2 separate regions of the Homo sapiens genome follow, and region 2 is linked to region 1. The links come from fine-mapping of genetic effects on gene expression. A gene starts in region 1. The other region holds a variant in brackets. All regions are shown on one strand. Distances are from middle to middle.

The links. PIP is the estimated chance that this variant, and not a neighbour inherited with it, causes the effect. A credible set is the group of variants that fine-mapping cannot tell apart.
Region 2: its variant is the best candidate, but not a certain one, in a credible set for the expression of LINC00865 in whole blood (INTERVAL, PIP 0.74).

Annotation. Positions count from the first base shown.
Region 1 is chr10:89,827,367-89,832,580 of GRCh38, reverse strand. LINC00865 (long intergenic non-protein coding RNA 865) reads right to left here and starts at 3,088. Exons shown (of 4, transcript NR_038382.1): 1 at 2,836-3,088; 2 at 2,277-2,611. LOC105378424 (a long non-coding RNA gene) reads left to right here and starts at 1,760. Exons shown (of 3, transcript XR_946196.3): 1 at 1,760-2,549.
Region 2 is chr10:89,881,008-89,886,221 of GRCh38, reverse strand. The region is part of intron 1 of LINC01374 (long intergenic non-protein coding RNA 1374); the gene reads right to left. Among named protein-coding and RNA genes, the nearest start is that of LINC01374, 30 kb to the right of the region's middle. The variant G/A (reference allele first, on the strand shown) is at 2,831.

The sequences.
Region 1 (5,214 bases):
GAAATAGGGGATCCAATATATGAGAGAAAAAAATTGAATTGTCAGGATAACAGTAAGAAAACATCTCAGGGCCTACAGAATAAGTAGTCCAGATTGGAACAGGAGAAAAGAGGGGTTCAGAAGCAAAGAATGCCTTCCGTAGGGCCGACTCATCCATTAGGCTGAGTAGGCATAGTGCTTGAGGGCCCATGACGCTGTTAGGAATTTACAAAAATGTCGTCATTTTAATTTCCTTTAAAATTAGGAGATAAAATTAATATAATAACAGTGACTATATGATAATAAATCCACCCTGATCATATTTACCTTTATACCAACGTGGCTGTAAAATAATTTTTATTTTTTATGGAGGAAGGAGCTCATGAAGGCAATGTACCTAGGACCGTGGCCTCCAGGAAAAAAAGGAAAATAAAAGAAACTGGATAGTTTCATTTGAATGTATCAAAAGGCACTTAAGACTTGTCAGAATTTGGCAGAATGAACTGATAATAACTACTTAGAAAACTAACTAAACAAAAATCAAGGCAATGCATAGTCAAGGAAAAACAAAAGCAAAGGTCTACAAAAAAGAAGTAAACCTAATACACTACAAGTTCATCTGTGAATAATATTTACATTGTCAAAATAAACACTAAACACTGATAAGATTTTTAAAAATATGATATTGCAAGATTAAGAAATGAAAGAAGAAGCTACATGCCCAGTTGTAAGACAGCCAACTCCTCATCTTTTGTAGAAGAAAGGCAATAGATAAGAACCAAACTGAAAAATAAATAGTATGAGAGGTATATTATAGGCTTGTGACAGTAAACAATAGAAAAAAAAACAGTTAAAAGAGATGAAAGTTGTTGCCTTTGGAGAGTGAGAATCAGAGATGGAGAAGAGTGGATAATGGTGTAATTTGCATTACATGACATACAACTTTTTGACTTTATGAACAAGAACCTAAGTTACCTTAATGAAATTTACAATTAAAGAACTTTAAGGATTGTTGAGAGTTAATATAATTAAATGAAGAATTTTCTACTTTTCTAAGTGTTTATGTATTAATTTTTTTAACATTTAAGAAGTGTGAAAAATGATTGAATTACATGGTAGCCTACTTAGATGCCATGAAAGATGTGCTCATGGGACATTAAAGAGATTGAGTAGACTGTGAGGCCAAAGTGAAATTCCAACCTGATGGAAGTGAACAGGGAATACTTCAAAAAGAGAAGAATGACTGAAAATGAGGAAAGTGAAAAATGCTAAAACTGGTTAAACAGAAGGGTCAGGAACAGTCAATATGTTATAGTCAGTATGGAAGAATACAATATACATTATGTATATGAGCTTTTCATGAGAAGACATGGGGGAAGAGTTAAACAATAGAATAACAACCATAATATTTTATTAATAACTATTATGAGCTGCTAAAATGGCATATATTTGGTAGGATATTAGTATATAAAAAAGGCTTGAGGTATTTAAAAATCTGTTCCCAGAAAATTATCCCCAAAAGTCAAAATATATATTTCATAGTTCTTTTAAATCCCTGACTTTCCAGCCACATATTCATACCACAATGCTGCACACTAAGCTGTAGATGGTTGAGTGATATGGTTTTGAAAAGATAATAAAAGAAAATTGAAAAGACACTCTTAGGTAAAACAAAAAGAAAATATTTCTCTCAGACAATTTAAAACTTAGGTAGTATAAGATAATTAGGGTTTTTAAAGAAGTCACTTTACAGAAGAAAGGAAATAAAAATTTTGCTGACCATGGCATATTTAAGAAAAAAAATCCAAGCAAAGAGGGGAAGAGTTATGATGAGCAGTGAGCAGTGAGGTATAAGCCCAACACTTTTCAGCCCACTGAAGTGTCCTGCCTACAGAACTCAAGGCAATTTCAGACTTCCTATCGACTGACATAGGTTTGGGGGTGCGGGAAATGACTCAAATGCTGCCCAAAATATATTTTTAAAAACTTTTTCCCTGATAAGCTTTTTAAGCCAGATAATGAAACCAAGTTGTTCGTGTTTCATATTTGAGAATCTAAGTACTGGATAAATAATAAGGGCTATCAATTATTGGGGGCTTTAATAATTCTTCAAACATTTAATGAGTGTCTTCTGGGTGCCAGGCGCTGGGACTATAGCTGTAAACTAAACAGGTGGCTACCTCCACAGAGTTTATAGTCTAAGGATTAAAAAATTAGACCTTGCACAATAGTGGGAGGAGACGGGGAAGTAAGGCCACCGTTGGAAGGTGGAGAATTGGAGAAAAGTCTCTATTCACCTCTCCTGAAGTAGTCAAGTGAAGGAAAAGTCACAGGTTACATATAGAGAACTGGGAACATCCAGTTGCAAGAGTGAGACCACAACAGGAGCTGGCGAAGAAGTGCATGGAAGGCTGTTGCCTCTGCATTGACTGTGGGTTTGGGGCTGCTGTTGGTCAGCAAGGCAGGCAGAAAAGGACACCAGCTGGAGTCAAGACAGAGGCAGGCGAGGACAAGCTAGAGCCCACAAGCAGTACATCTACACTTCTCTCCTTCCGCACCAGCTACACAGAGTAACGGTTACTCTTTCACTTCTGCTTCCCAAATCTGGCATAGATATATCTTTTGGCCAAACCTGATATGGAGACATAATGGAAATGAAGTTCTAGCTTAGGCCAGTTGATACAAAACCAGCACGGTCCATCCCTTGTCAAATTGGCGGCCGAGAGCACCTCCTTTTACCATATTTAATTTCCAGTAGCAAAATCTTGCTTCAACCTAAGGTGCAACTAACCCTGCTACAACTAGAAACACCCTAAACCTCTCTCCAATGAGGATATGAAGTCCCGTAGGACTTACCGCATAGGTCACTTTATCTTTGGGGAAAGTTCATCCTTTTCTAGCTGAGTCACACTGCCCTTTTAATATCCTGAGATACATGCTGAACTACAATACTATTGACACGTTTTATGTTCAATAGTAGAATGGATGGAGGAAGAGAAAGAAAATGAACCAGTATTATATTTGCAAAATGAAAATCAATCCTTCTGAAATATTTAAACGGTTTCTGCCTTTGTAGGAGACCGTTTGGTAACGTATCGAAATCCATAACGGCCGTGATTGGCGCGCAAGCGCGGGGCTGCCCAGGGGCCCTCCTTGCCTCCCGCCTTATGGGCCCGGAAGGTCCTTCTTTCCCCTAGCTTGGACTCCAGCTCCTGCCCGCGGAGCTTGGTCTAGCTGCGGGAAGCATTGAAGCACAAGGAGAGTACTTTTGCACAATGACCTCCAAATTTTACTTTGAGGACTTTATCATAGTGAAACTACCATGGCTGTAGCTTATATCGGTTTTTTTTTAAATGAAAATAACCTAATTATGCAACAGCGGGAGGGTTGCTTGAGTAAATTATTGTTAACTCCAAATGACAGAATAATGTATGAAACAATTAAAAATAATTTGTTAAAACAATGAATGACTTAGAAAGATTTTTATTATTAAGTGAGAATAAAAGCAGAAACCTAAAAGATATATTCAGTATGAGCTCATTTCTGTAAAATGATGTATTTTACAGAGGAGAATAAAGTTTAAAGCATGCAAACCAACGTGGTAACTGTATTAAACCTACTTAATAACAAGAAGCTATTCATAGTAAATAAGTTGAATTTATAGAAAGAAATTTACTATGAGGACAAAAAAGGATAAACAGGAAAATATTTGCAAAACAGATAATCTAACGTATAACCAGTTCCTTCAATTAAATAAGAAAATAAGAATCCAATAGCAAAAATGAGGACATGTTTAGAAAAAGAAATAAAACATTTTAAACATGTGAAGTGTTTTATTTCATTTCTGCTAAGAAAAAGCAAATTAAAACAAAAATCTAATATTATTTTAACCATCAGAAAGCTTGACACATTGAGTTGACAAGAGTAAAGGAAAACAGGCATCCCGATATATTGCCAGTGGGAGTAGAAATTGCTGACACCTCTATGAAAAAAATACGCAAGCCAAAATTTTCAATAATGTGCCCCTAAACCCAACAATTTTACTTTAAAGTGTAGACATTCATTGCAGCATTTTTTATAATCTGAAAAAAACAGAAACAAATGTACAGATAAGAACTGGTTAAATAAATTATGGCAAAGCCATACAATGAAATACTCTGTGATGATTAAAAATAGTAAGGCACTTCTTCATGCAATTATATGGAAAGATCCCCAATATATATCAAGTAAAGGATTTTAGGTATATAATGGTATAATTAAACCCTACCATTTTTGTAAAAATAAAATATGTGTGTATACACACATATCAGGTATGCACACCCACATTCCTATATGGGCATAAAACATCTCTAGAATGGAACAACAACAAAAAATTGATAAATTGCTCCCTCTATAATTTTGAGGAAGCTCCCAACAGCTAATTAATTTTTGTTCTTTGCCCTAAACCTGCCCCTTTTTTCATTTTTTTCATTTCCAAAAAGGTACTACCATTGATTGTCTCAGAAAAGTAGAAATGAGATTTGTTCCTTCTCTTGTCCTCACCCAACCCCCATTAAATCAGTTATCAAATCCTGCTAACTTTATTTCCAAAACAAGTCTCAACTTTATCTACTTGTATTACAGATGTTGGCTATTTATCAACGTTTTCTGTTCCTTTCAACCTTAGTCATAGACGTCCTGATTTTCAACTAGACCTGTAGTAACCTAGAGTAAACATTTTATTGTCTATCTTCCATTGTAATCACATGGGGCCATGCTACTGAGTGCTTTCCAATGAGCTGTAACTGCAAGCATCACGTATAATTTCTAGAAATTCTCTTACAGGAAAGGGATGTATCTTTTTTCCTCCCTTCATCATTCACGTTGTCTGGGATGAAAACAACATGACTGGAATTAAAGCAGCCACCGTCAATGAGGAGGTTGAAGTCACGTATTGACAAAATGGAAGGAATCTGGTCCCTAAGAATGGTGGAGCCACCAATTGAATTCTAGGCTATGTACAGATTTCAGTTATGCGAGAGAGGAATAAATATCTGTCCAAGCCACTGTAATTTGGAGTTTCAGTTACAGCTACTCCAAATCCCAAATGATAAAATGTCTCTGTATTTCAATGGCCAACCACCTGACCAAAGCCCAGTCCATTTCACCTGAACTGCTGCAACAGCTTCCTAACTGTTCTATCCACATCCCACCTTGACCTCTTCCTCTGCTGAATTCTCCACACCTCAATAAGAA
Region 2 (5,214 bases), 54 kb before region 1:
AAAAAAGAAACCCACACACCATCAAATAATATTAGAGTGTCATGGTCCTTATGGCCAGATTAAGACTACTTCCAGGTGTCTCCCTTCCTCAGTAAGCTTCCTGTTTCCCACCAAACCAAAACCAGAACATATTGCTGACCAAAACACAAACGGTTTATATCCAGCCTGTTCTTCCTGAACAGTATCCAACTTTATTTGGAAGCAGAAATTGCCTATTCTCTGGAGATGAGTTGTGATTAGCCAAATCAATTCTGTTCCTCACTTTCCCAGTCTCCTTGCAACTAAATATGGCCCGGTGATATAATCCTTGTCTAGAAAATATATGTGAAGGTGGCCTGATAAAGGATCTTACATGTCCTGCTCCTTCCCCATTTTTCCTGATGGCTGGACCTATAGCAGCCATCTCGTAGCCGTGAGGCAACCAACAGGAGAATGAAGGTGTACACGCGAAGAATAACAGTTCAGAATGATAGAAAGTAACTGGGTCCCTGATGGGAGAGTTGAGAAGATGAGCCTACAACAGTAACCACCTACCCCTGGAATGCCAATAATGTAAAAACAAAAATCTTAATAAATTATTGGTGTAAGCTACTGCTGGCGTTTCTAACTGCTATAACCTCCTTTTCCCAGGAAAATCCTAGAACCTTTGTCTGTGACACTATTCTTCCATTTACTCTGATAAAAATAAAAGAACAAAAACATCTTGTTGTCCATATTCTTACACCATTAAAACAACATGCACAGGGTTAGGATTTTCATCAGTTTGACAATTTACTAAAGTGTTTAATTTACTTCTGTGCCAGAAAAATCTTGTAGCTGCATCCAAACTGATTATTTATAACGTGAGATGTTATTTGAATGACAGTGTATTTTATTTTCCAATTACATTTTGTTTAAGAGGTAAAATATCCATTTATAAAACTACTGCTGCTATAAAATGGTTTTACTATTAAAATCTAGATCCCTTAATTTATTCATATAGAATCCATTATAGTATACAATTTGGATGGACTGGGGTCATAATAAGAAGTCTCTTTTAATATCAGAAACAAACAATAACAGAAGCAGATTTAATCTGTCAGCCTTAATCTTAAACTCCAGATAAATTCTGCTTTACCTATCTCAAACAAGTGAAACAAGAGTGATTAGAAGTTAATAAAATCAGTATGTAGTATAAAATAGATGCTAAATAAAGTTAATGAGTCAAGATAATATAATTCTGACTACACAGGATACTAGTTTATAGTATCTGAAGTTTCAGCAAACAAGTTGAATCCCAGCTGAGTTCCAACCTAACTATATGTACTTAATGTTCTTTAACATATAAGTTCAGGTATCCAAAATAGATAAATGAGAGCTAAAATAATAAACACTGTATAATTATTTCATACTCTTCCAAGGTTTTCATAAAATCTTTAATTGAATCCATCACAAAATTATTAATATATAAACTGGTCAATTCAAGTATCTAGTTTCACTATATCTTTTCATTACAGTAACCAGTTGCTAGATTGAAGTGTTTCCCACATAAGATGTTTCTTATGTAGAATGACTTGATAGGAGCTATAAAGAAAGGTTATGTAACATAATGGGCAGTGCACATACTTCAGAGACAAAATAGAGTTCATTCTTTGCAATTGATCACTGTGCATCCTTGGGCTAGTCACTTAATTTTACTGAGCTTCAGTTTCCTCCAAGGTTGAATCGAGATCATACCTACCTTTAAAGATTGTTGTGAAAATCATTTTATAAATAAGTATCCTGTCAAACTACAAGCCGGTGAAACCCTAATTTTATGATGCTAAAAATTAGTTGGTTCTGAATCACTTAATGCCTATATGAAATACCTGCAGTATAGATTATATGCTTGTAGCAATTCAAGTCCTAATAGAAAAAACCAAAGAGGCATCTTGATACCTTAGAAACATCTGGATAGACACAGATGAGAATTGTAAAGCACCAGAATGTCCTGAGACCTCTGAGGTGACAGAATCAAATCCCTTCCCCTTGTAAGAGAAGAAAAGCTTCCTCCTCCTTGGAGGGAGATCTTATAAAAATGTCATCAGATATTTGTCCTTCCCAATATTCACCCTCTTTTCCCCTCAACATAAACCCCTAATGCTACTACATACTGGCAGGATTTAGAGGAAAATGTGGGAGATAGAGCTGAGGGATGTTGGACAAGGAAGATAGAATATAAGTTTGGATAGAAGCAAGTGTATTAACATAGGAGTACTTTTCTATGATTCAAGGCTTAATATCATACAAAGCCTTTGTAACTGGTCATAATACGCTGCTGGGATAGGCTTGACATGGCAATGTCCTAGAATAAAATATATGGGGATGCTGAAACTGTGTTACTGTATTTTGAGGAAATGGTCAAAAGGCTTATGGAAGTGGAAGTGTTACAATATATTTATGAGAGCCTAAGAACCCCCCCACATGATTCTGTTCTCCAGAAGGATCCAGAGGACATTAAAGAATGCATTATTTATTTTCAGATATGGGAACAGCAGCATAAAACTATAATCCCTACAAGTGAATTGCGCCCTACAACTGATCCAGCTTATTGCTAGAAGCAGTTTCCAGGTTACAGCACAGGGAAGAGTACCCAAATAGAGCCCAGGAGTCTCCTTGAATTGAACAAATAGAAACTAAACTTTAGGGAAATTAAGACAACTAAAATGTGTAGGACAAAATACTGAAGAGGTAAGAGCTTCACAGAGGGAGACCTCTGGACTTCCACAGAGTGATCCCTTTGAGTCTTTGGCTGAGTACTGATCAGTACCTTTTTGTGGTGACACCTCACAAGGCTAGAGAAAGAAACACC[G/A]GACAGAAGTAGGATGAATAATTCCTGGAAACTACAGCAAGAGTGGAGAGATATCACCACCCCATCAGCCAGACTGAAGAGACCTTGTAATACATTGAGCACTGGGAAGCCTTGTGAGAAGAGTATTACCTTAGCAGTGACTCTAAGTTAGCCCTGACTGAAGCTTGTCTGGACCCACCCTAACAGAGCTTACAAACAAACCACTAAAGAGTTAAACTGATCCTAAGTAAATTGACTGAACGAAGCCTGATACTCTTTAAAGAAATACAATAAAATTTAATACCTAACAATATGAAATTTACAGTGTTCAGTGACCAACACACAAGGCATGTAAAGAAGCAGGAAACATGACCCATAACAATAAGAAAAATCAACCAATAGAAAACACTCAGAAATGGCAGAATTTAGTAATAGGATAGTAAAACAGCTATTATAAACATGTTCCATATAATCAGAAATATAAAGGAAAACATGAATATGGTCAAAGAGATACAAAGAATTGTATTCAAGTTACAAGATAAAGTCATCTTTTCTCTTCCAAGCCTCATGGTAACCTCAAATCTAAAAACAGACAATGGATACACAAAAAAATAAAAAGCAAGACATTAAAACATACCACCAGAAAAAAATGACCTTCACTAAAAGGAAGATAGGAAGGAAGGAAAAATGAAGAGAAGACAACAAAACAACCAGAAAACAACAAAATGCAGGAGTAAGTCCTTACTCATCAACAGTAACATTGAATGTAAATGGTCTAAACTCTCAAAACAAAAGACACAGACTGGCTGAATGAATCAAAAAGAAAAAAAAGACCCAATGAACCCAGTGACTTTTTGCCTACAAAAAACAGACTTCACCTGTAAAGACACACATGGACTGAAATTAAGGGGGATGGGAAAAGATAGTCCATGCAAATGGAAAACAAACAAACAAAAAAAAAAAACAAGAGTAATTATACTTATATTATATTAGACTACATAGCTTTCAATAGAAAAACTATAAAAACAGACAAAGAAGGTCATATAGTGAAAAAGCAGTCAATTCAGCAAGAGGACATAACAATTTTAAATATATATGCACCCAACAAAGGAGCACCCAGACATATAAAGGAAATATTATTAGAGCTAAAGAGAGAGAGAGACCTCAGTACAAAAATAACTGTAGACTTCAACACCCCACCTTTGGCGTTGGACAGATCATCCAGAGAGAAAATCGACAAAGAAATATTGGACTCATTATGTACTATAGACCAAATGGACCTAATAGATATTTACAGAACATTTCATCCAATGGCTGCAGAATACACATTCTCCTCAGGACATGGATCATTATCAAGGAGAGACCCTATTTTAGGCCACAAAACAAGTCTTAAAACATTCAAAAATTGAAATCATATCAAGAATCCTCTTTCACCACAGTACAATAAAACTAGAAACCAATAATAAGAGGAATTTTGGAAACTATACAAACACATGGAAATTAAACAATATGCTCCTGAATGACCAGTAATCTAGTGAAGAGATTAAGAAGGAAATTTTAAAATTTCTTGAAACAAGTGATAATGGAAAAACAACATACCAAAACCTATGGAATACAGTGAAGGCAGTAATGAGCTATAAGTGCCTACATCAAAAAGGAAGAAAAATTTTACATAAACAACCTAATGATGCATCTGAAAGAACCAGAAGAGCAAGCCAAATGCAAAGTTAGTGGATGAAAAGAAATAATAAAGATCTGAGTAGAAATAAATAAAGAAAACCATACAAAATATCAACAAAACAAGAAGTTGCTTTTTTGAAAAGAAAAATTGACAGACCTTTGGCTAGCATAGCTAAGAAAAAAGAGAGGACATTGAAATAAATAAAATCAGAGATGAAAAAGGAGACATTACAACCAATACCACAGAAATTCAAAGGATCACCAGAGGCTACTATAAGCAATTATATGACAATAAATTGGAAAACCTTGAAAAAAAATGAATCAATTCCTACACACATGAAACCTACCAAGATTGAACCATAAAGGAATCCAAAACCTGAATAGACCAATAACAAGTAATGAGATCAAAGCTGTAATAAGTAGTCTCCCAGTAAAGAAAAAGAACTAATACCAATTCTACTCAAACTATTCCAAAAAATAGAGGAAGAGTGAATACTTCTAAACTCATTGTATGACACCAGTATTACCTTAATACCAAAACCAGAGTCATATCCGAAAAAGAAAAGTAAAGGCCAATATCCCTATGCAAAAATCCTCAACAAAATGCCAGCAAACCAAATTCAACAACACATTTAAAAGATAACCTATTAGGACCAAGTGGAATTTATCCCAGGGATGCAAGGATGGTTCAACATACACAAAGCCATAAACGTGATACATCACAT